7 linked regions of the Homo sapiens genome follow. The protein of the gene in region 2 interacts with the protein of the main gene of each other region in a pairwise test. Each region holds a gene or a part of one and is shown on either strand. Other genes may lie near its edges.

Region 1 (4,070 bases), on a different chromosome or scaffold from region 2:
CACCTGAGCTTGCTTGGGCCCAGTGTGGGGGTGGCAGGCAGGTGAGGGCTCCGTTGCCTTGGTCTGGGGGCAGAAATAAAATCCCCGCAGCCTACTGCACTTCTTGGCTCAACGGTGTGCCAGCTTCTGGGTCATTCTATGGGCAAAGATGCTGCCTTAGTTCAGGTTTGTCAGAAGCAGGGTCTGGAATGGGGCTTCAGCGAGGGAGTCAGGGAAGCAGGGGAGGGGAGGGAGCAGCTGGGCAAGGAAGTGGCTTCAGAGGACGTCCAGCCTCAGCTGGCCCCACGGAGAGCTCCAGGCAGAGCCCACAGTACCACAGTGTGCCCACACCACCGGTTACTGGCTCCTGGATGAGGGGGCCAGAGAGGAGTGAATAACTTCCCAGACACTTATCTCCAGGGCAGGGTGCCTTCCAGTAGCCAAGGGAAGCCTCCAGAGAGCACAGATGTGAACCCTCAGCAGCAGGCATCACCCCCCAGTGGACTCGGGTGGGCCACCAGTAGCATCTTCTAGATGGCAGAGGGGTGAATGGCAGGGCCAGGAACCAGGCTGCCCGGGTTCCCATTCTGCTTCTGCCACTTCCAGCTGTGTGGCTTTAGGTGAGCCTTCACCTTTTGGTGCCTTCGTTTCCTCATTTAGCACCTACCTCCTAGAGCTGTTTTGGGAGTCAAATGCGCTGACGTATATAAAGTGCTTTGCAAGATCCCTTTGTGTTTGCGGCTGTCATTGTGGAAGAGTTGCAACTTGGGGGCCCGAGATTGGATGAAGCGCACAGCCACGCTTTGGGTTACACATTTGAAACTCAGGGGGCTTCCATATTGCAGTCTTGAGTTTGGTCTCCCTGGGAAGGTGGGGCACCAGCCCCATGCCACGTTGCACGTATCAGCTGGAGCAGAATCCTGGCTTCCTTCCGGATGGGCCTGGGGTCCATGCCCGCGCTCACTGCCAAGATCTTTCTGGCCCCTACGGACACGAGTTTGCGACCTCTGAGTCACTGGGTGGGCGCGTCGGAAAGACCAGGGCGCCTCAGTCTGGAGCTCGCAGTCGTATGGAGAGGGCAGGACCAGCCGGGGAGGAGGGCGGCGCGCGCGAGGGTCGCCTTCTTCCCAGGGCACCGGGGGCGTGGGTGCTGCGGGCGTGCGCCGAGAGGGCAGCCTTGGAAGTGGGCGCAGCTTCGGCAGACACAGGCGTGAGGGGCTGCGGAGCTCGAGGGCCGGCGCCCCTGCTTGCCTCTGCGGGAGGTGGGCGCGCCCGGGACGGAACCTGGGGCGTCAGAACGAAAGGCAGCGGCGCCGCGCTTCCCAGCCGGCCAGCCTCCCGCGCAGCGCCCCGGCCGGAAGCCTCCTCGCCGCCGCTTCCTCTCGAGAAGGCGCGGGGCGGGCTGTCCGGCCCGCAGGGCGGTCGAGGTGGGAACGGAGCAGCCCCGGGGGCCCCCTTGAGGCGGCGAGGCCGCGAAGGGCGCGGGGCTGGAGGGTAGGAGAGCGCGGGAAAGCGCCCCAGACGCCACTCGCGGCGGACGGCGGCCAGTTCCCAGGGGTTTGGAGCCGGGTGCGCAGGCGTGGGGCCTCCGGGCACGGGGCGGGCCCTTAACAGGCACCGCTGCGGGGACTGGAGTCGGCGGAGAAAACCGGGGTCCCCAGCGCTGGGGGTGGGTGAGGGTCGCTCATTTTCCCGGGACGGTGACGGGTACTGGGCGTCGCCAGGCCCCGGCCCCGCTAGAGCCACCCTTGGAGCCCGCCCGCGGCCGGCCTTGGGGGCTTCGGCTCAAGCGCGTCTTCTTCGTCGCCAGCCCGCGGCGCCATGGCTCACGTCGGCTCCCGCAAGCGCTCGAGGAGTCGCAGCCGGTCCCGGGGACGGGGGTCGGAAAAGAGAAAGAAGAAGAGCAGGAAAGACACCTCGAGGAACTGCTCGGCCTCCACATCCCAAGGTCGCAAGGCCAGCACGGCCCCTGGGGCGGAGGGTGAGGACCACAGGCATCGGGGAGAGGAGGCGCAGTTACTACCCGGGGAAGTCGGGCGAGCAGTGGTCGGGGACGCTCAGTCATGCCTCTGTGCAGCCGGGCCTGAGATGTGAGGGCCAGGCGCCGCAGGAGCCAGGAAGGGGCTCCTCTGGGAAGCTCCATCTCTGTTCTGGAAAGCCCCTCAGGAAGCGCTCACCCTGTAGCCGGTCTGTGCCTGCCCCAGGCCAGAGCAGGGGACGAAGGTTTACCTCTTCCCCTCCTGGCCTTCCAGCCTCACCTTCTCCCTGCATCACAGAGAGAAGCAAGCAGAAGGCCCGGAGGAGAACAAGATCCAGCTCCTCCTCCTCTTCTTCCAGTTCTTCTAGCTCCTCTTCTTCCTCCTCGTCCTCCTCCTCTTCCTCCAGTGATGGCCGGAAGAAGCGGGGGAAGTACAAGGACAAGAGGAGGAAGAAGAAGAAGAAGAGGAAGAAGCTGAAGAAGAAGGGCAAGGAGAAGGCGGAAGCACAGCAGGTGGAGGCTCTGCCGGGCCCCTCGCTGGACCAGTGGCACCGATCAGCTGGGGAGGAAGAGGATGGCCCAGGTACTGTGCTGCCCAGCACCTGAGAGGGAGAAGGTCGCTTCCCAAGGCCTGGCCACCACCTCCGTCTTCCCTTCCAGTCCTGACGGATGAGCAGAAGTCCCGAATCCAGGCCATGAAGCCCATGACCAAGGAGGAGTGGGATGCCCGGCAGAGCATCATCCGCAAGGTGGTGGACCCTGAGACGGGGCGCACCAGGTGGGGAGCTTTCGGCCTGACTTACACCACAGGATCTGGGAGTGTTGGCTGAAGATGTGTGCTCTCGGGAGGAGTGGGGCCGGGCGGGGTTCCTGGTGCCTGAAAAAGGCCAAATGTGGGCAAAAATACGGTCACTTGGAGTAAGTAGTTGCAGGGGCTGGAAGGGCCTGGAGGAGGCTCTTGAAAGGGCTGTTGTTGGCCGGGCTGAGGCTGGCAAGGCAGAGCCCAGCTCCACTGCCTTCATCAGGGAGAGTGGGTGAGGCCCCAGGGTCTGTCCACTCAAGGCTGCGGGGTGGGAGCCCTGGGACCCCTCTGCCGGCTGCTTGTGGTTCTGCTCCTCTGGCATTAGGGGACCTGCCTATTCCTTGCTGAACGGAGACCCTCCCACCCCCAGGCTTATTAAGGGAGATGGCGAGGTCCTAGAGGAAATCGTAACCAAAGAACGACACAGAGAGATCAACAAGGTGGGTGTGGCCCCTCTGCCTGCCATCCGCCCCCAGCTCTGTTTGTGATGTACCCCTCCTCCTGTGTGCTTTCTTCCCCAGCAAGCCACCCGAGGGGACTGCCTGGCCTTCCAGATGCGAGCTGGGTTGCTTCCCTGAGGGCCCCCGCTGGCCAAGGCCTGTGGACGACGCTGGCGGCCCAGCCTGGGCAGGTTTCAGGGTGCCAGTGGGAAGCCTGATGGGTGCTGGTGGCCTTTCCCCCGTGGATTGGTCTCTGGCCCAGCCCAGTCTCTTCTCAGGGGCAGGGGGTGGAGGTTGGGGTCACCGGCCTGCTTGGCACCCCCATCTGAAAGAGCAGCACTTCTCAGCTATTAAAGGCCCCCTGGATAGACTTTCTCTGTTCTGTGGCTTTTTGTGCTGAGTGGGAGGGAAGGGTGCTACATGACTGCCAGGGAAAAACAAGGGCTCCGGGAGCTTTTGGGCAAAGCTGGGGTGTCCTCTGGTGGTCGTGAGCACAGGCCACACCAGCGCCTGTGCCTTCCTCTTCAGGTCAGCCTGCCTGGACCAGACCTCATGCCAGCTGAACCCCAAACCCAGAGAGCTGGCTCTGAAATGCCATGCACTCAGGCATGGAGAGAGTCGGCTTCCCCTGCCATGTTCATTCCACAGATCGCAGCAGTGCAGAGCCAGGTGCTGGGGCTGGGTGGCCTGTGTGGCAGGTCTGGCTCTCACTGCCCAGCTGTGTCTTCCACTCTGAGGCAGGGAGGCTCACAGCACCCGTTTCACTGAGGTCTGTGAGGGCAAACTGAGTTCCATCCCAGGAAGGAGCTAGAAGCAGGCTAGGCCTAGAGTCAGCCCCGCACTCACGTGTTGGCGTCACTGTGAGTGTCAC
Region 2 (3,500 bases):
GAAAGATGAGAGAAATGGCTTAGCTACCTGGAGGGTTAATTATAAAACAGAGGTCCTGTTGCCTTCCGATCTGATCACTTGCATCTCATTTGCAGATCACCTTTAGGCTCCACAGCCTCTGCCCCAGCACCCTCAGCACTCCCGGCCCCTCCAGCACCCCCAGTCTTCCATGGCATGCTGGAGCGGGCCCCAGCAGAGCCCTCCTACCGTGCTCCCATGGAGAAGCTTTTCTACTTACCTCATGTCTGCAGCTATACCTGTCTGTCTCGAGTCAGACCTATGAGGAATGAGCAGTACCGGGGCAAGAACCCTCTGCTGGTCCCGTTACTATATGACTTCCGGCGGATGACAGCCCGGCGTCGAGTTAACCGCAAGATGGGCTTTCATGTTATCTATAAGACACCTTGTGGTCTCTGCCTTCGGACAATGCAGGAGATAGAACGCTACCTTTTCGAGACTGGCTGTGACTTCCTCTTCCTGGAGATGTTCTGTTTGGATCCATATGTTCTTGTGGACCGAAAGTTTCAGCCCTATAAGCCTTTTTACTATATTTTGGACATCACTTATGGGAAGGAAGATGTTCCCCTATCCTGTGTCAATGAGATTGACACAACCCCTCCACCCCAGGTGGCCTACAGCAAGGAACGTATCCCGGGCAAGGGTGTTTTCATTAACACAGGCCCTGAATTTCTGGTTGGCTGTGACTGCAAGGATGGGTGTCGGGACAAGTGAGTTGGTGGGGGGAATTGCTGCCCCTGCTTCCAACTTTGTTATGGTGTCTGTTTCACCTCTTCCTTTGCCTTGTATCTGTACTGCTTTCCCCATCTTCCTTTACCTCCTCCCTCACCTGGAACTCCTGCTATAAGGCCTCCATGAAAGCTATGAGGTAGGGAGGCTGGAGTCTGACATGGCCACACTGAGCAACCTTGGGTACATGTGTATTGTGTTATTTTTGTTCTCTGATCCCCCCGCTCCTTTCCTTTATTTCCCTCTGTCATATAGGTCCAAGTGTGCCTGCCATCAACTAACTATCCAGGCTACAGCCTGTACCCCAGGAGGCCAAATCAACCCTAACTCTGGCTACCAGTACAAGAGACTAGAAGAGTGTCTACCCACAGGGTAAGTGGTCAAGGAATGGCACAGTACCTCAGAGAGACTGAGGAGCATGTTCTTGTTTTTCTGTGCTTATAGAAATCATCAGAAATCTAAAAATTGGAACCAAAAATAGAATACCAGATGAGGCATTTTATTAATTAGATCTTATTTCATGACTTCCAAAACACATTTTTTTTCTTGGACCTTCCTTGAAATGAAGACATAGAATGATTGAATAGTATCTAGCAATTTTCTGTTGCAAAAAAAGATTATCTTAATTTCATAGCTAAATGAATGTCTTAACAGATTGTGATTTACACTTGTAAGTGAAATGTGTTCAGAGAGGAGAAGTAGGCAGGGACCTGATTACATAGGGCTTTGTAAATCAGAATGAAAAAAGTTAGAATCAGGCTGGCACAGTGGCTCACACCTGTAATCCCAGCACTTTCGGAGGCCAAGGTGGGTGGATCACCTGAGGTCAGGAGTTTGAGACCAGCCTGGCCAACCTGGTGAAACCCTGTCTCTACTAAAAATACAAAAATTAGCCGGGGGTGGTGGCGGGTGCCTGCAGTCCCAACTACTTGGGAGGCTGAGGCAGGAGAATCGCTTGAATCCAGGAGGCAGAGGTTGCAGTGAGCCAAGATCATGCCACTGCACTTCAGCCTGGGTGACAAGAGCGAGACTCTGCCTTAAAAAAAAAAAAAGAAAAGTTAGAATCAAATTCATGGTGCTCTTACAGGATTTTAAGCTGCCAAGTGATGTGACCTGCCTTTTTCAGATTACTCTGGCTTCTTTGTAGATCATAGGTCTTAGGATGGCAAAAGTAGATTTTGGAAGACCAATTAGGAGATCGTTATAGGAGTACAGCAGAGAGAGACATTGTTGCAGCTATGACTTGCAATAGAATGGAGGTGATAGTAGAGGTAAGAAGGATAGATTTGGGCTGTATTAATAGGTAGAGCTACAGAATTGGATAGATTATGGAGTGGGGGGAAAGAGTAGAATCAAGGACAATTCCTAAATTTTTGGCTTGAGCATCTTAGTGGTTGTTGGTGCTTTTTACTGAGATGGAAGACCGAAGGAGTAGTAGGTTTGAGTGAAATTCAGTTTTTGTTTTGGCCATGTTAAGTTTGAAATGCCGCCGGGCGCAGTGGCTCACGCCTGTAATCCCAGCACTTTGGGAGGCTGAGGCGGGCGGATCACCTGAGGTCGGGAGTTCAAGACCAGCCTTGACCAACATGGAGAAATCCCGTCTCTACTAAAAATACAAAAAAAAAAAATTAGCCGGGCATGGTGGCGCATGCCTGTAATCTCAGCTACTCGGGAGGCTGAGGCAGGAGAATTGCTTGAATCTGGGAGGCGGAGGTTGTGGTGAGCTAAGATCGCACCATTGCACTCCAGCCTGGGCAACAAGAGCGAAACTCAGTCTCAGAAAACAAAACAAAACAAAAAGTTTGAAATGCCTGTCAGGCAATCCAAGTAGAAATGTCAAGAAGACACTGGGATTTCTGGAGAGAGTGGGATATAAAAATTTAGGAATCATCAGCACAGGAGTATTTAAAGCCTGAATAAGTTCACCTAGAGACAATGTTGATAATAGAGAAGGCGGCTCAGGAGTAAGCCCTGGGTGCCCCAACATTTAAAGGTTGAGCAGAGGAGGTGGAACCAGCATGAGGTTGAGGACAGCTACTGAGGAGGGTGAGGCCGAAAGATTACTTGAGGCCTGGAGTTTGAGACCAGACTGGGCAACATAGTAAGACCCTGTGTCTAAAAAAAAATTGTTGGGGCTGGGCGTGGTGGCTCACGCCTGTAATCCCAGCACTTTTCGAGGCTGAGGCAGGCAGATCACTTGAGGTCAGGAGTTCAAGACCAGCCTGGCCAATATGGTGAAACCCCATCTCTACTAAAAATACAAAAAACTTGCCAGGGATGGTGGCGAGCACCTGTAATCCCAGCTACTTGGGAGGCTGAGACAGGAGAATCACTTGGACCCAGGAGGTGGAGGTTGCAGTGAGCCAAGACCGCACCATTGCACTCCAGCCTGGGCAAGAAAAGCAAAATTCTATCTCAAAAAAAAAAAAAAATTGTTGGCCATGCGCGGTGGCTCATGCCTGTAATCCCAACACTTTGGGAGGCCAAGGTGGGTGGATCACCTGAGGTCAGGAGTTCAAGAACAGCCTGGCCAACATGGTGAAACCCCATCTGTAATAAAAATACAAAAATTAGCCAGGCGTGATTGTGCACGCCTGTAATCTCAGCTATTTGGGAGGCTGAGGCAAGAGAATCGCTTGAAGCTGGGAGGCAGAGATTACAGTAAGCTGAGATTGCACCACTGCACTCCAGTCTGGACAACACAACAAGACTCCGTCTCAAAAAAAATGATTTAAAAATTAAAAAAAAAATTT
Region 3 (3,500 bases), on a different chromosome or scaffold from region 2:
TTACTTCTCCCAAACCGACCCTTCATATGAAGCATTTATGGCACCATAAAGATCCCAAAGCTCCTGCAACTCACAAACATCACCACCTGCCAGAATGCCTGTGAGAAGAATATGGTCAAAGCCTATCTATGAGGACAGAATGGGGATAAGAAACAGTCATCATCATCATGATAATAGCCAACATCTACAAGTGCTTCCTAAATGCATCTCTCTTCTAAATATTTTACACATACGAATTCATTTAATCCTCACAATGATCCTTTCAAGTAAGAACTATTTTTAACCCCATTGTAGAGATACAGAAATGGAGACCAGAGATATTAAATTACTTGCTTGGGGTCTCTGAGATAATAAATGGCACAGTTAGGATTCAAAGCCAGGCAGCTGGCTCCAGTACCTGCGGCTGTCACCACACTCTGCCGCCCCTCAATATGGAACCACAGGGATCAGCATCTAGTCTAAGCTGTGGAAAGGCTGGGAGGGCTAAACACAACAGCAACATTCCTGTTACATATGTAATTTCCTTCAGTCTTTGAATCACCCTGTAGGGATCATCAATGTGTCCATCCAGGTGCTCAGCCATGGTAAACATCTTACCCAACATCATCCAGCTCAGAGAGAATGGCATCTGCCATCTACAGCCCCACACTGAACACTATGCAGTTTATAAAGTGCTGCTACATGCACTGTGACATCAGGTTTCCCAGCCTTCCCAGGAGCTCTGGAGAGGCTGATGAGATAATGTCAGATGGTTATGGTATAAATATTCATGCCAGCTTACAGTAAACACAAGATACCAACTAGGCAGGGTGATGGGACATCTGTATTGTTCCCCTTTATGAATGATGACTGATATATGTCAGGGGAGGACATGCCGCACAGTTCATCAGCAGTTACCAACAGGCAATTCCATTATGTTTTGGAAATTAAGAAGAACACAGAATGCTACAACATGGATAAACTTTGAAAACATTATGACAAGTGAGAGAAGCCAGCCATAAAGGACCACATAATGTAGATTGTATTTACATGAAATGTCCAGAATATGCAAATCAGAGAGAGAGAAAGTTGACTGGTAACCACCTAGATCTAGAGAGGTTGGGGGGACATGGGAAGTGGCTGCTAATAGATACAGGGTTTCTTTTGGTGGGGAGGTGATGAAAATGTTGTAAAATTGATTGTGTTAATGGTTGCACAACTCTGTGAATATATTAAGAATGATTAAATTGTGCATTTTAAGTGGGTGAATTGTATGGTATATAAATTTTTTCTCAATAAAGCTATTGTAAAAAATAAAACAACACAGGAGCAAAGTCCCCCCAACCGTGTGCACCCCCACCCATACTCTTATGAGCTGCTGGTACTCACTTCGAAGCCTTCACGGAATCACCTGCCCAGCCTCCCTGTCGGCAGCGAGGTAATTTAGCAGAGGAAGTCTACAAGGAAAGAGAAGTCAAAAGAACACATTCACTCAACATTTGCATTTATTTTATTTTTTATTTTCTATTTTTTGAGATGAAATCTCACTCTGTCACCCAGGCTGGAGTGCAGTGGTGCGACCTCAGCTCACTGGAACCTCCGCCTCCTGGGTTCAAGCGATTCTCCTGCCTTAGCCTCCTGAGTAGCTGGGATTATAGGCGCCCACCACCACGCACAGCTAATTTTTGTATTTTTAGTAGAGACAGGGTTTCACCATGTTGGCCAGGCTGGTCTCAAACTCCTGACCTCAAGTGATCCGCCCACCTGGGCCTCCCAAAGTGCTGGGATTACAGGCGTGAGCCACCGCGCCCAACCAACATTTGTGTTTAAACACCACAATGGCTGAGGGTAAGGTCACCTACACCAATCAATATTCAGCCTACCTTTTGAATAAAAATACAGTAACCTTTGTAATTTACTATGAAAATCTGGGTTCCTTCATACCCTCCCGGTGAGTCATAAATTGGCACCATGTTTCTGGAGGGCTATTTGGTAAAGTTTATTGAAAGCCTTAAAAATGCTCATACTTTTTAACCTAGCAATTCTAATCCTAGAAATTGATCCCAAGGGAAAAATCAGAGAGGAATATAATGTTATTTTTGAGTAGTGAATAGCTAGAAACAACCAAAATTGCTAGCAATAAGGAATTAAGTAAATGGTAAAATACACATGAAAATACTATGCAAATAACAAAAAGCCATGTTATAAGAAAACCCAATGATATAAGAAAGTTTGATACATTTTAAGTTTCAAAAACATGTTACCAAACAGTAAGTATATGCTTTTGATGCATTTTTTGAAATGATTATCAACATATACTATTTAGTGTTAATGAGTTATATGTACATGACTGACAGGGGACTCCATTATAGGCAATTTTAATTTTCCTTTCCTCTTCTGCTTTTTATAAACCGAAAAGTAATAAAATAAAGATATAAGAGTGAGACTTGCTTAGAAGAGATAAACTAAATTGGTGGGTGGATTAAAAATCTACTCAAGAGGCCTACACCAACCCCTGCCACTGCTGCCAGTGACCGAGTACAGTGTCTAAGAGGCTTGGGGATTGACTTGCCTCCAACCCCCACCACCACTAGCACCCATGTATGCCATCTAGGGGCCTGAGGATAGGCTGACCCCACCCACCACCACCACTGCCAGCACACACATGACCCAGGGGCATAGGATGGATCCACCCTGCCCACCACCACTGGTGCACATTTTCTGGGGTCTAAAGGACCGTTCTGCCCTGTCTGCCACCCATGCATAGTCTGCGAGCCTGGGAATAGGCCTACCCTGCCTGCCACCAGTGTCCATGTATGTCTCCCAAAAGCCTGATGGCCAGTCTACCCAGCTTGCAGCCACCACCCACCCACATGCACTACCTGGGGACTGGCTCACCTGGCCCACCACTGCCACCCCCGGCACCTGAGCAAGGCACTGGAGGCCTAAGGACTGACCTGCCCAGATCCACCATCACCAGAACCCATGTACACCACCTGGGGGGCCCAGGGACTAGCATACCTGGCTTGCCACCACTACCACTGGTGCCTAAGGACCAGCCCACTTGGTATCCCCATTTGCAATAAAGCCTTGTCACAGCCTCCAATAACAACTATAGCCTAAGCCACTAAAGAACCCATAGATACCCACTGATGCTGATTACAGCTGAAGATATATAAAAACTACATCACTGCACCCACCCAGAATCAAAGCCAAAGCACCCCACCCTACCAACACCATAGATACATCTATAGGGAAGTCTTTTCTTATGGAAGTCAATCCATAAGACTGGAAGATGCAACTATTACACCAGATACACAGATATCAATGTAAGAACACAGGAAACATGAAAAAGCAAGGAAACATGACACCTTTAAAGGAACACAATAATTCTCCAGTAACAGATCCCAATGAAAAGACAATCCATGAAATGGATAAAAAAGAATTCAAAACAATGATATTAAAGAAACTCAGTGAGGTATGAGAGAACACAGATAAAGAGTACAAAGAAGGCCGGGTGC
Region 4 (3,500 bases), on a different chromosome or scaffold from region 2:
CTTTGGAGGTGGCCAGGAAGCCCATAGGAGGAGGGAATGCTCAGTGTGTGCCCTGAGAGCTTTGCCACTGTCAGAAAGCACCTGACAGGAACAAGTTTGATTGTATTTGACACATGCCGGCACTACCACAGAAAGTTTTAGCAACAGATAAGAGGGGACATCTGTACTCTCAACTTCTTTTTTCATACTTCCTATTGAAGTTTTCATCTCTACTCTCAGGCATTTAATTTCTAAGACTGCTGTTTATTTTTAATTGTCTTAAAAAATAGCATCCCATTCTTGTTTAACAGATGATATAGCTTCTTTTACCTCCTTGAGGAAGATATTAATAATAGTTTTTTAAAACTTTTCTTCTCACTGCACAATCTCTTTTCTTTGTCCTCCTTTTGTTCCTGTTTAAAATGATAGCCATTTATCTTTTTCTCAGGTGTCTGGTGATGTGTGGTTGTCTGGTCATGTTTAACAGTGGGATTTATAATGCCGATTGGAAGCTGTGAGCATATGGGTGGAGCTTCTGAACTTTTCTGCAGTGTGAGCTGGTGCATCAATTAATTGGGAACCCATAGGTCAGTATCTTCGACTGTGTTGTCTTGGGTTGTTCAGATTGTCTGGAGAAGACTCACCCACCCTTATTTCTGGAGGGATGAAGGCCTATAAACTCCGGAAACAAAGTAGAGATAGAGGGAATGTCTTAGAGCTTGTAGGTATGTGTTTATCTAATCCACATGTTTTCCAGACAGAACCTCCATCCTCAATTGTGCCTGATGTTTCACCTCCAGAGATTCTTTAGAAAATAAATGTCCAGGCCAGGTGGGGTGGTTCACACCTCTAATCCCAGCACTTTGGGAGGCTGAGGTGGGCGGATCACCTGAGGTCAGGAGTTCGAAACCAGACTGGCCAACATGATGAAACCCCGTCTCTACTAAAAATATAAAAATTAGCTGGGTGTGGTGGCAGGTGCCTGTGATCCCAGCTACTCAGGATGCTGAGGCAGGACAATCACTTGAACTGGGAGGCGGAGGTTGCGGTGAGCTGAGATTACGTCACTACACTCCAGCCTGGGTGACAGAGTGAGACTCTGTCTCACAAAAAAAAAGAAAAGAAAAGAAATGTCCAGTCTCTACTAGGGAAGGGCATTTTTCCAGAGGCAGGGAATAGGGGAGAGGGTCCAGGGATCTAATTTCTTATTATTATTTTTATTTTTTTTTAGTTTTGAGATGCAGTCTTAACTCTGTCGCCCAGGTTGGAGTGCAATGGCGTGATTTCAGCTCACTGCAACCTCTGCCTCTGGGGTTCAAGTGATTCTCCTGCCTCAGCCTCCCAGGTAGCTGGGATTACAGGTGCCTGCCATGACACCTGGCTAATTTTTGTATTTTTAGTAGAGACAGGGTTTCACCATGTTTTTCAGGCTGGTCTCGAACTCCTGACCTTAGGTGATCCACCTACCTTGGCCTCACAAAGTGCTGGGATTACAGGCGTGAGCCACCAAGCCTGGCCTTCTTCTTATTTTTAATATAAAGCCAGATTTGTTGAGTTATAATTTACATAGAACAAAATTCACTTGTTAGTAGACAATTGTATGAGTTGTGACATAAAACTATCTCAGCATATAACTCATATGCTGAGTTATGTGGTAAGTATGTGTTTAAATGTATAGGAAATTGCCAAATTGTTGTCTCAGGTGGTTGTACCATTTTATTTATTTTATTTTATTTTATTTTATTTTATTTTATTATTTTATTTTATTTTATTTTATTTTATTTTATTTTATTTTATTTTATTATTTTATTTTATTTTATTTTATTTTATTTATTTTATTTATTTTTGAGACAGAGTCTCGCTCTATTGCCCAGGCTGGAGTGCAGTGGCACGATCTCGGCTCACTGCAACCTCCACCTCGTGGGTTCAAGTGATTCTCCTGCCTCAGCCTCCCAAGTAGCTAGGATTACAGGCGTGCACCACCACACCCAGCTAATTTTTGTATTTTTAGTAGAGATGGGGTTTCACCATGGAGGCCAGGCTGGTCTCAAGTTCCTGACCTCAGGTGATCTGCCTGCCTCAGCCTCCCAAAGTGTTGGGATTACAGGCGTAAGCCACTGCGCCTGGCCTGGCAGTACCATTTTAAATTTTCACCACTAATCTATGAACATTCCAGTTGTTCCTCATTCTTGTCAACACTTGGTATTTTCAGATTTTTATTTTTTAATTTTAGCCATTCTAATAGGTATGGATTTAATTTCCATTTTTCTAATAGCCATGATGCTGAGCATCTTTTTGTGTGCTTGCCATTTGTGTATCTCCTTTGGTGAAGTGTCTTTTCAAACACTTTCCCTATTTTTATTGGGCTGTTGTGTTACTGAGTTTTCAGAGATGTATGTGTATTCTGGATTTAGGTCCTTTATCAGATACGTGTTTTGCAAATGTTTTGTCCTCATCTAGTGGCTTGTCTTTTCATTGTGACTGTCTTTTGAAGAGCAGATTTTTAAAATTTTGGTGTGGCTAATAAATTATTTAGTTGTATGGATTATGCTTTTGGTTTTGTGTCTAGGAAATTGTTACCTAATTCAAGGTCACAAAGATTTTTCTCCTGTTTTCTTCCAGAAGTTTTAAAATTTGGGGTTTTACATTTAGGTATGTTATTAATTTTTGTATAATTTTTGTATGTTAGGCAAGGTATAGATTGAAGTTCTTTGTTTTTGCATATGGATGTTCAATTTTTCCAGCACCATTTGTTGTAAAGGTTATTCTTTCTTGATTGAATTGAATGTATACCTTTGTTGAGAGTTCACAAAGCTGTGGTCTGTTTTTGGATCCTCTAATTTTATTTCACTTATCTCTTTGTCTGTCGCTCTGTCACTTGACCAGTACCACACTCTTTATGGCCATAAATGTTGAAATCTAGTACTGCAATTCCCCAACATTTCTCTTTCTCTAAATTGTTTTGTCTGGTCTAGTTCCTTTGTTTTTCCAAATAAATTTGAGAATTACTTGTTGATTTCTGCTAAAATTTCAACTTGGATTTTGGTTGGCATTGCATTGATTATATAGATGAATTTGAGGAGATTTGACATTTTAACAATATTGAGTCTTCTAGTCCATAAATATGGCATATTCTCTCCATCTATATGTCTGTGGATCCTTATATCTGTGTTTTGTTGTTTTCAGCATAGAAATCTTGCACATAGTTTCATGAGATTTATACTTAAGTGTTTCATGTTTTGGTGCTATTATATAATATATGGTAATTTTTAAAAAACATTAGATTTTTAATTTTTTGTTATAAGTATGTGGATACAATTGACCTTTGTATGTTGAATTTGTATTCTGTGACTTTGCTAAACTCAATTAGTTCTAATAACTTTTTTTCTAGTTTCTTTGGGATTTTCTGTATAGACAATCATATCATCTGCAAATAGAGACAGTTTCATTTCTGCCTTTCTAATCAATAAACCTTTTATTTCTTTTTCTTGCCTTACTGCACAGGCTAGGATCTCTAGTAT
Region 5 (3,500 bases), on a different chromosome or scaffold from region 2:
TTCCTTAAATAAATATCTTTCTTTTTCTAGGTGCCATGATGTTAAGTTCTGTCAGCAGGGGATAAAAGAGAGATATTACAAGAAAAAGGAGCTCTTGTTCCTGACTCATGTATCCTTGGCAAGCTTCTGCAGTGGAGGCAGCTTCTCCAGTGCCTAGCTCTTGATATTAATGGTGGTCAGCAACACTCAAAGACCATCAGCTTTCACTGGTGCTTCCTCTCCCTTGGGAGGTTTCAAAGCAGAGTATCTCTAACAAGATATCTCCCCATAAACAGTTTTTTAGAGTACTCCAGAACAGGGATTTATAAACTTTTTCTTAAAGGGACAAATAGTAAATTAGGCTTGCAGATTATAACATCATAACTCTACCTTTGTAGTGAGAAAGCAGATACAGACAATATGTAAATAGATTGGGCATAGCTGTGTTCTATTTAAACTTTTTTTTATAAAACAGCTGGCAAAAGGACTACAGTTTGCCAACCCGTGACCTAGAGGGCATATTTCCCACCAAGTTTTGAAGGATGCATTTCCAGTAAGTTCCACCAGAGCAACACCAGTGACTGCTCTGCTACTGAGTCATGGCCATATTCCTTCCAATAAGGTAAGAATCTTAGCCTTGGCAAAAAAGGTTCTTACTTGGGCACTCTATCTCAGCCCTATCAGTAGTGGCTGCTTCTTAAAACTATTCTTGTATTCTTTTAATTTTCTTTAATTTCCCTGATATAGTCAGTAACTCTATTAAACTTACCCTCTTGAAAATACCTGTGGCTTCTGACTTATGATTGCATCTTAACCGACACACAGTTTATCTTGGTGTTTTTTAAAGGCATTTATCACTAACTGAAATTATATTGATTGTGTTTTGCTTGCTTTTACTTTTTTTTTTTTTTTTTTTAAGAGACAGGGGTCTCAGTATGTTGCCCAAGCTAGCCTCAAACTCCTGGGCTCAAGCAATCCTCCCAACTCAGCCTCCCCAGTACCCAGAACTACGACATGCACCACCATACCCAGCTTGTATTTGCTTACTATTTATTGATATCCACCACTCAATGTAAGCTCCATAAAGGTAGGCACTTTGGTTCACTACTGAATGAATTCCTGATACCTAGCACAATATTAGGTCATAACAGATTCATAACAAATACCTGTGACTGACTAAATTAATCTTTGGCCAAATAAACTGAATTTTTAGAATTTCAACTATTTGATTATATAAAATAGGGAGATGACAATAATCTCTTGCTATACCTGTGCTCACTCTCTCTCACATACACTCCTTATTCATTCATATCACTCTATCTCTGCTTATTGTATTCCCTCAGTCTCTATTCTAAAATTAGTAAATAACTTCTTTGAGTGCAAAAATTCACCTTCCTGTCTTTTAAACCTGTGAGGTTCAAGCAATACAACACAGAATCTCCCTAAGTATTTTACAAGGATGAGAAAACTACTACTGAGTGAGGTGGGAAAGATAGGCACCTTCTCCTTAAACCTTACCCACAAATGTTGGCAAGAGTCCAAAGAGTAGAAACAGTCGTTACTCTCCAAATTAATTTTGGCACTCTTGTTAGAACACTCAAAATATTCCTAATAATCTAATACTTCAGCCACATTACTTTAAAACATTTTTCGGAACAGAAATTTGTGGCTTGCTAATCTATAATTTTTAATATGCACCAGCTACTCTTTTAGAGTCTTTAGCTCATTCTTTCTCTTATATATACAAATAAAAATACTTGAAAATCAATCTTTCAACTTTTCTGCAGGTCCATCTAAGTTGGATTTTACCCCCATCCTCCCACACTTGTAGTCTTTCTTATTTTCACTTTGAAATACTAATATAATGCAATGGTTGCTGGGATGTTCAAAACAATACTAGCACTTTGTGAAGTCCAAGGGCCTACTGCTCAAATTCATCCAAAACAGCTAGAAAACAATGGAAAAATTCTGTTTTTGCTCTCTCTCCCTCCTACCTATTTCCTAATTCATCTCTGCTGACATGAGGGGGATAGAGAAGCAGAGAATGCCAAAGGGCACAAAAAGGGGGGAAAGCTGGGTATGAAGTCTTTGGTGGAAATCACTTCATTTTCTCAAACAATCTGAAGAACAGAGACAAAGGTAACAACACTGACAAAAGGATGACCTTCCAGTTCTTTCCTTCTTTTATACTGCTTCACTTCAGCATACGTTGGTTGTAACATTTCATTAACTCGTAAAGGCTGTTTTTTACTATATAACTTCATTTAACCTCTACGGCCTTGTCTCTGAATATCAAGTTTCACCAGTTGCTTCCAAGCTAATATGTGCCCTCTCTTTAGGACACTTAAGATTTAAAACAGTTTTAGGTCGTCTGACAGTACAATCTCTGTACTTGATTCTGACAACAGACTACCAAAGCCAAGAACAGTTATATAAAATTTTACATTTAAAGGAAATGTTAAAAAAAATGAAAACTTTTCATTTTTGTTTTTCAGAAGAGTAAGGAGAAAATGGAAATATGTAAAACATACTTTCTTTTCTTTCTGTTTTTTGTTGTTGTTGTTTTGAGACAGGATTTCGTTCTGTTGTTCAGGCTGGCTTGCAGTAGTGTGATCTCAGCTCATTGCAACCTCTGCCTCATGGGCTCAAGCCATCTCCCCTCTTCAGCCTCCTGAGTAGCTGGGACTAAAGATGCACGCCACCATACCTGGCTACTTTCTGTATTTTTTTGTAGAGACAGGGTTTCACCATGTTGCCCAGGCTGGTCTCAAACTCCTGGGCTCAAGCAACCTGCCCATCTTGGCCTCCCAAAGTGCTGGGATTACAGGCATGAGCCACCACGCCTAGCCACATTATGCTTTCTTAAAGACTGTCTGGAATTAAGGCATTTCTATTATTTTAGAGTCAATAACATATTTAAGTATAATTTCAATTGTTCAGATTATTATATTCTTGTATTTAATGGTGAGAGGTATTATTTCCCTTTTCAATTTTGTCATATTGCAAATTTCGAGGAAAATTAAAGTTATGTACGTCTCCAGAGATATTATCTAGAGATATTACCAACTGCGTTTTCCAAAACGCAATTGGTAAGAGTTTTTTTTCCCTTGCCTTACACTCAAGGTAGAGAAATAAATTATTTTCCACCATTGAAAAAAAAAACTGCACAAAAGCTTGTCTGGTTCCCAAAACAACTGCTTCTTCTAAAAGTTCTCAATGATTTTCATAGTATAAATGCTAAATTACCTCAACAGAAATACAACACAAGTTTGAAGGAAACCAGAAACCACCATAAATAGCAACTTTCAAAAGATGAGAGTACCTGGGCGCCGGTGGCTCACACCTGTAATCTCAACACTTTGGGAGGCCGAGACGGGTGGATCACTTGAGGTCAGGAGTTTGAGACTGCCTGGCCAACATGGTGAAACACTGTCTCTACTAAAAATACAAAAATTAGCCAGGCATGGTGGTGCGCATCTGTAATCACAACTACTCGAGACGCTGAGGCAGAAGAATCGTTT
Region 6 (3,500 bases), on a different chromosome or scaffold from region 2:
GGAGGCGGAGGTTGCAGTGAGCTGAGATCGCACCATTGCACTCTAGCCTGAGGACAGAGCAAGACACGTCTCAAAAAAAAAAAAAATACTATTTTATATAAGCCTTGAGTATCCACGGATTTTGTTTTGCAAGGGTCCTGGAACTAACCGCTTTGGGGTGCTATCAGCTTGACCACGTCAGAACCTTGTTCTGTTTTTCATAACATTTAAATATCAATACACAAAAAACTCAGCATCTTTATTTTCTCATGTAGTTTCTTATTTATTGTGATTTCTGTGATGTAGGGACCTACAAGTACTAAAATGTCAGAAATCAAGTTGCAGAATGAATTAGGAACAGCACCAGGACCAGACCATGGCTTTCTGGTACTACTGATGTGTTGCAATTTGCTCAGATAATACATCTTTAAAAAAGAGAAAATAAGGCTGGGCGTGGTGGCTCATGCCTGTAATCCCAGCACTTTGGGAGGCAGAGGTGGGTGGATCACCTGAGGTCAGGAGTTCAAGACCAGTCTGACCAACGTGGAGAAACTCCGTCTCCACTAAAAGTACAAAATTAGCGTGGTGTGGTGGCACGTGCCTGTAATCTTAGCTACTGAGGAGGCTGAGGCAGGAGAATTGCTTGAACCTGGGAGGCGGAGGTTGTGGTGAGCTGAGATCGCGCCATTGCACTCCAGCCTGGGCAACGAGCGAAACTCCATAAAAAAAAAAGAGAAAATGGCAGTACAAAATTAATATAGAAAAAATATTAAAATAGAAAAAAATCTTGAATTGCATGCTATTTAGTTTGTTTAGTTTGTATTTAAATACAAATGTATATTTAATTACACTTTTTGAATGACTTGATTTTAGTAAACTAATTTTATAGATTATGGGATATTTCCTAATCTGTGTTCTAAAAATGTTGATAGTATGATAACAAACAAGTAAAACTATCTTTAGGCCAGGCGCGGTGGCTCACGCCTGTAATCCCAGCACTTTGGGAGGCCGGGGAGGGTGGATCACCTGTGGTCGGGAGTTCTAGAACAGCCTGGCTAACATGGAGAAACTCCATCTCTACTGAAAAAATACAAAAATTAGCCAGCCATGGTGGCGGGCTCCTGTAATCCCAGCTACTTGGGAGGCTGAGGCAGGAGAATCACTTGAACCTGGGAGGTGGAGGTTGCAGTGAGCCGAGATCACGCCATCGCACTCCAGTGTGGGCAATAAGAGCAAAACTCCATCTCAAAAAAAAAAAACAAAAAACTATCTTTAGCCTGGGTGACAGAGCGAGACTCTGTCTCAAAAAAAATAAATAAAGGTGACAGCAGGCCAGGCATGGTGGCTCATGCCCGCAATTCCAGCACTTGGGTAGGCCAAGGTGGGCAAATCACTTGAGCCCAGAAGTTCCAGACAAACCTGGGCAACATGGCAAAATCCCTCTCTCTAAAAAACTATAAAAATTACCCAGGCATGGGCCAGGTGTGGTGGCTCACGCCTGCAATCCCAGCACTTTGGGAGGCTGAGGCGGGCGGATCACACGGTCAGGAGATCGAGATCATCCTTGCTGATACGGTGAAACCCCATCTCTACTAAAAACACAAAAAAAGGAGAATCACTTGAACCCATGAGGTGGAGGTTGCAGTGAGCTGAGATCGCGCCACTGCACTCCAAACTGGACGACAGAGCAAGACTCTGTCTCAAAAAAAAATACATATATATATGATATCATATATATGATATATATCATATATATATTTAGATTTTTTACTGTACAAACAACAGCATTACAACAGTAATGGTGAAACTTTACCTATAATTCTATTCCTAGTTTATTATTTCTTTTTATATTTTTTCTGCTGTATATGTATCATTTATTTCATAATTATAATTGTAAATAAATTTTTGTATCTTGCTTTATAATTAAGCATTATGCTATGAACATTTTTCTATGTGTTGCTACAGTCTTTCTGATTTCCTTTTTTTTTTAAATGAGACAGAGTTTTCCTCTTGTCGCCCAGGCTGGAGTGCAATGGCATGATCTCGGCCCACTGCAACCTCCGTCTCCTGGGTTCAAGCGATTCTCCTGCCTCAGCCTCCCTAGTAGCTGGGATTACAGGTGCCCGCCACCACCCCCAGCTCATTTTTGTATTTTTAGTAGAGATGGGGTTTCACTGTGTTGGCTAGGCTGGTCTCGAACTCCTGACGTTAGGTGATCTGCCCGCCTCTGCCTCCTAAAGTGCTGATTTCCGTTTTTTAATGAGTGTTTTAAGTTTCCTTGAGTCAATATACAAAATACATTTAACTATTTCCCTATTGTAGGAACTGCCAAGTTAGGCTCTTTTTTTTTTATTCAGTGGTTTTGTTGTTGTTGTTTTCTTTTGTTTTTGTTTAGGACGGGGTCTCGCTCTGTCGCCCAGGCTGGAGTGCAGTGTCACGATCTCGACTCACTGCAACCTCCGCCTCCCAGCCTCAAGCAATTCTCCTACCTCAGCCTCCTGAGTAGCTGGGACTACAGGCATGGAGCCACCATGCCTGGCTTTTTTTTTTTTTTTTTTGGTATTTTTAGTAGAGATGGGGTTTCTTGGCCAGGGTGGTCTCAAACTCCTGGCCTCAAGTGATCTGCCCGCTTCAGCCTCCCAAAGTGCTGAGATTACAGGCAAAAGCTGGCACACCTGGCCATAAAGTTAAGCTCATTTTAAATTTTTTAATGTTGCCATGAATGAACTTTCACACTGACTATCTTTGCAGATATTTTTATTTTACTTCTGAATTTTCTTTAGGACAAAATCTCAGAAATAATTGGGTCTAAAAGGTTGATTAAGCCAGGCGCAGTGGCTCATGCCTGTAATCGCAGCACTTTGGGAGGCCGAGGTGGGTGGATCACTTGAGGTCAGGAGTTCAAGACCAACCTGGCCAACATGATGAAACTCTCTCTCTACTAAAAATACAAAAATTAGCTGGGTGTGGTGGTGCACGCCTGTAGTCCTAGCTACTCAGGAGGCTGAGAATCATTGGAACCCGGGAGGAGGAGGTTGTAGTGAGCCGAGGTCATGCCACTGCATTCCAGCCTGGGTGACAGAGCGAGACTCTGTCTCAAAAAAGAAAAAAGTAAATTAAAAAATAAAAGATTGGTTATTACATTTTTGTAAAGCCACTTGAAGAACTATAAAATGCTATTTGTTTTCTTACAGTTAATTTTTTTTAAAAAACTTTAGCACCACCAAATCCAATTTTTTGGAGAAAGAAATTTCTTGGCCAGGTAAGGTGGCTCATGCCTGTAGTCCCAGCACTTTGGGAGGCTGAGGCAAGCGGATTGCTTGAGTCCAGGAATTCGAGACCAGCCAGGGCAACTTGGTGAAACCTTGTCTCTACAAAAACACAAAAAATAGCTGGGCCTGGTGATGAGTGCCTGTGGTCCCAGCTATTCAGGAGGCTGAGGCGGGGGAATCACTTGAGCTGGGGACATCAAGGCTGCAGTGAGCTGAGGACGTCAAGGCAGCATTGAGCTGAGATCATGC
Region 7 (3,500 bases), on a different chromosome or scaffold from region 2:
CATTTTCTTTTTTTTTTTTTTCTTTTTTAGATACAGGGTCTCACTGTTGCCCAGGCTGGTCTCCAACTCCTGGGCTCAAGTGATCCTCCCATTTCAACCTCCCAAAGCGCTGGGATTACAAGCGTGAGACACCACACCTGGCCAGTTCACAGTTTAAATGAAGCTCTTTCCTACTTTAGAACTTCTGCTAAATGCTGTAGCTTCCAACTGGCATGTTCTTTGTACAATTAGGTATTCCCGATACTTCAGATCTAGAAGTATACATTTAGGAACTTTATGAGAATTAAATGTACTGAAGAACCAAAAATAATGTCAACCATATAGAAAGTGTTCAATAGGTCAGGCGCAGTGGCTCATGCCTGTAATCCTAGCACTTTGGGAGGCCAAGGCAGGCGGATTACTTGAGGTCAGGAGTTCAAGACCAGCCTGGCCAACATGGTGAAACTCCATCTCTACAAAAAATACAAAAATTAGCTGGGCGTGTTGGTGGGTGCTTGTAATTCCAGCTACTCAGAAGACTGAGGCATGAGAACTGCCTGAACCCAGGAAGTGGAGGTTGCAGTGAGTTGAGATAGCACCACTGTACTCCAGCCTGAGTGACAGAGCGAAAACTGTCTCTAAAAAAAAAAAAAGAAAGTGCTCAATAAATATTAGGTATTATCTGAAACTCCATTACATATACAGGTTTCCTATCACCATTTATTCTCTCAGCATTCTGCTAATTTGTTGTAACATTTTATTGGCCAGGCATGATGGCTCATGCCTGTAATCCCAATACTTGGACTTTGGGAGGATGAGGTGGGAGAATCATTTGAGCCCAGGAGTTCAAGACCAGCCTGGGCAACAAACTGAGAACCCACCTGAACTAAAAATAAAAACAGCTTGGTGTGATAGTCCATGTCTGTAGTCCCACCTACTCGGGAGGCTGCAGCAGGAGGATCAGTTGAGCTCGGGAGCCTGAGGCTACAGTAAGCCATGTTGGCACCACTGCACTCCAGCCTCGGCAACAGAGTAGGACGCTCTCTTGAAAAAAAAAAAAATTATTTCTAGAGTATAAGCTCCCTGAGGACAAAGTCTGTGTCTCATACATCATTATACACCCAGGATCTAGCACAAAATCGCACTCAAATATCACCAAATAATCATGCTGGAATCAATAAAACTCACAGGCCATACGCAGGGGGAAGGTTCAATGACCTCTATAGTACTAGCGATGGGGAGGATAGTGTTAACTTTAATGTGGCAAGGAATAAAGAATGAGCAAGTGTGTTTTGTCAAGGGAAAGAGGCAGGCACTTGAGATTAACTGAATGGATGTATTGAATTTGAGGTAGAAAAACTAAACGGAAGTTAGAAATACAAGGGACATCTGGACGCCAAAAATCTAGTAGTGGTTAAGAACATGGCCTCTACAGGCAGTCTAAGTTTAAATCCCAGTTCTACTGCCTCCTAGTTGCATAGATTACTTAACCTTTGGGCCTCGATATGCCAGTGTCAGAAAAAATAAAAAAAAGACACCAATTATACCTGTATCAACCTCACTGAGTTGTTTTGAGAATTAAATGAATACTGAATGAATTAAATGAATACTGAAATACTGAAGCACTGAAATAACAATTAGGAAAGAGTAAATAAATGCTAGGTATTATTAAGATGGTACATGGTAGCTAAAAATCTGATTCTGAATATACAGTGAGAACATAAAATAGAACCAGAACCCCACATAATAACAACTGGGAACAAAAGAAAGAAAACATATGAAGAAAAGTGATAAGTGGATGACAGGAAAAACAGAGCGGAAGCAAAAGAAAACAGTTTTGAAGGATTTGTTAACAACAGAGTGTTGGTTAAGTACATACGGTTTATAAGGCCAAAGGATTTGGCAATTTGAAGGTCAATCATGAACAGAAAACATAGTGTTCTACGAAGTGTTTAGAAGGGAGGAGAGAAGAAAGCGAAAAGGCAGACTACAGAGTGGGGTTAATGGGTAGTGGAGGAGCATAAAGAGAATTCTAGATCAGTGGTCCCTAAACTTCATTTCAAGGGCTTCAAAAAGAAACAGGGAATCTGACACAAGGTAGTGGACTCCCTTAATACTATCAATAAAATTTTTTTAACTATTATCACCATCATCTGAAAAAGGAAATGCCTAACAGTAAAAATGTATGAAGGCTAAAAATCCCAGAACAAAGGGAACACCTTTATGAAAAATCACTGTCGGCCGGGCGCGGTGGTTCACGCCTGTAATCCCAGCACTTTGGGAGGCCAAGGTGTGCAGATCACGAGGTCAGGAGATCAAGACCATCCTGGCTAACACGGTGAAACCCCATTTCTACTAAAAATACAAAAAAATTAGCTGGGCGTGGTGGCAGGCACCTGTAGTCCCAGCTACTGGGGAGGCTGAGGCAGGAGAATGCCGTGAACCTGGGAGGCAGAGCTTGCAGTGAGCCAAGATGGTGCCACTGCACTCCAGCCTGGGCGACAGTAGAGCGAGACTCCATCTCAAAAAAAAAAAAAAAGAACATAAACTCTTTGACTACATTTTCTTGTATTAGCTATGTCATATTTTTACACTTGGCAAACAAGCATTTTGTATATACCCAAAATCCACTTACTACATACAAACTATAAAGAAAAATATAAGGACACATTAGCAATATATATAAACTATGCCTTGCAGCAGCATCACAGGCGCTCAATAAAACTTTATTGAAATGTACTCAAGTGGTGTGGGCCACGCAATACTAGATGAAGAATTACAAGTCAGATTCCACTCTATAAAAAAGAGCTAAGACAGTATAACATAATGGTTACAAGAGTGGTAACATGACTACAGGCTTTGGAATCAGACAGACTTGGGTTCAAATCTCAGCTGCAATACTTTATGGCTAGGTGACCTTGGCAAAATGATTTAACCTACCTAAATTTGTCTCCTCACCTGTAAAACAGGAATACTCACCTCATGAGGTTATAGTGCTGATTAAATGGCAGTTTCTAACTTTTAGAAGTCGTAACATGATAGATGTTGCTGCTTAAAGATCCTTAAGTTAGTAGGAGATATTTTGCTTAGACTTACTTGATTTCTTCATTTTTAAGGGGGGAATCTCCTGAATTTTCCATTTTCAGGGTTTTCAAAAGCTGGTCTGGAATAGTAATTTGCAAATCCTAGTGTCTTTTCCATGACAAGATTTTAATGAATCTACTATGAAATTACAAAAAAGAAAAGTGTAGTGTAGTAATTTTTCTCTTTAACAGGCACTACTGTGAAGAAAGAATCACTTGTAGAACTCTAAAAAATATGCAGGCCTCTTATCCTCTGGAGATCTGGATTGATCTAGGGCTTGAAGAAAATGGACTGTCTGTGGAATTTTGGTAATTCATGTTATATAAAAGTTAAGAAACCACTGTCCTATGACCTTACTAACAATGCTTTACCTGAGTCTAAGGTAAGGAAGAATCAGAGACAGAAGAGCTTTAAGATGTGATCCTTTAGTTTGGTTC

Evidence for each region.
Region 1: the proteins of SETDB1 (region 2) and ARL6IP4 interact in binary tests that used the Homo sapiens proteins (3 or more experiments, as listed by UniProt).
Region 3: the proteins of SETDB1 (region 2) and IFT43 interact in binary tests that used the Homo sapiens proteins (3 or more experiments, as listed by UniProt).
Region 4: the proteins of SETDB1 (region 2) and HSF2BP interact in binary tests that used the Homo sapiens proteins (3 or more experiments, as listed by UniProt).
Region 5: the proteins of SETDB1 (region 2) and HSF2 interact in binary tests that used the Homo sapiens proteins (3 or more experiments, as listed by UniProt).
Region 6: the proteins of SETDB1 (region 2) and CEP76 interact in binary tests that used the Homo sapiens proteins (3 or more experiments, as listed by UniProt).
Region 7: the proteins of SETDB1 (region 2) and STRN3 interact in binary tests that used the Homo sapiens proteins (3 or more experiments, as listed by UniProt).

Annotation. Positions count from the first base shown.
Region 1 is NC_000012.12:122,979,340-122,983,409, forward strand, and holds ARL6IP4 (ADP-ribosylation factor-like protein 6-interacting protein 4), read left to right. Parts: upstream 1-1,341; 5' UTR 1,342-1,406; exon of another isoform or gene 1,407-1,648; intron 1,649-1,789; 5' UTR 1,790-1,800; coding exon 1,801-1,960; intron 1,961-2,231; coding exon 2,232-2,540; intron 2,541-2,617; coding exon 2,618-2,735; intron 2,736-3,129; coding exon 3,130-3,199; intron 3,200-3,280; coding exon 3,281-3,337; 3' UTR 3,338-3,570; downstream 3,571-4,070. Other genes in the region: OGFOD2 (2-oxoglutarate and iron-dependent oxygenase domain-containing protein 2), read left to right, coding at 1-7.
Region 2 is NC_000001.11:150,950,363-150,953,862, forward strand, and holds part of SETDB1 (histone-lysine N-methyltransferase SETDB1), read left to right. Parts: intron 1-95; coding exon 96-728; coding exon of another isoform or gene 729-732; intron 733-1,002; coding exon 1,003-1,119; intron 1,120-3,500. UniProt on the Homo sapiens protein: Histone methyltransferase that specifically trimethylates 'Lys-9' of histone H3. H3 'Lys-9' trimethylation represents a specific tag for epigenetic transcriptional repression by recruiting HP1 (CBX1, CBX3 and/or CBX5) proteins to methylated histones.
Region 3 is NC_000014.9:76,020,263-76,023,762, reverse strand, and holds part of IFT43 (intraflagellar transport protein 43 homolog), read right to left. Parts: intron 1,437-3,500; coding exon 1,369-1,436; intron 1-1,368. UniProt on the Homo sapiens protein: As a component of IFT complex A (IFT-A), a complex required for retrograde ciliary transport and entry into cilia of G protein-coupled receptors (GPCRs), it is involved in ciliogenesis.
Region 4 is NC_000021.9:43,533,989-43,537,488, reverse strand, and holds part of HSF2BP (heat shock factor 2-binding protein), read left to right. Parts: intron 1-3,500. UniProt on the Homo sapiens protein: Meiotic recombination factor component of recombination bridges involved in meiotic double-strand break repair.
Region 5 is NC_000006.12:122,402,652-122,406,151, reverse strand, and holds part of HSF2 (heat shock factor protein 2), read right to left. Parts: intron 1-3,500. UniProt on the Homo sapiens protein: DNA-binding protein that specifically binds heat shock promoter elements (HSE) and activates transcription. In higher eukaryotes, HSF is unable to bind to the HSE unless the cells are heat shocked.
Region 6 is NC_000018.10:12,682,224-12,685,723, reverse strand, and holds part of CEP76 (centrosomal protein of 76 kDa), read left to right. Parts: intron 1-3,500. UniProt on the Homo sapiens protein: Centrosomal protein involved in regulation of centriole duplication. Required to limit centriole duplication to once per cell cycle by preventing centriole reduplication.
Region 7 is NC_000014.9:31,019,880-31,023,379, forward strand, and holds part of STRN3 (striatin-3), read right to left. Parts: intron 1-3,500. UniProt on the Homo sapiens protein: Calmodulin-binding scaffolding protein which is the center of the striatin-interacting phosphatase and kinase (STRIPAK) complexes.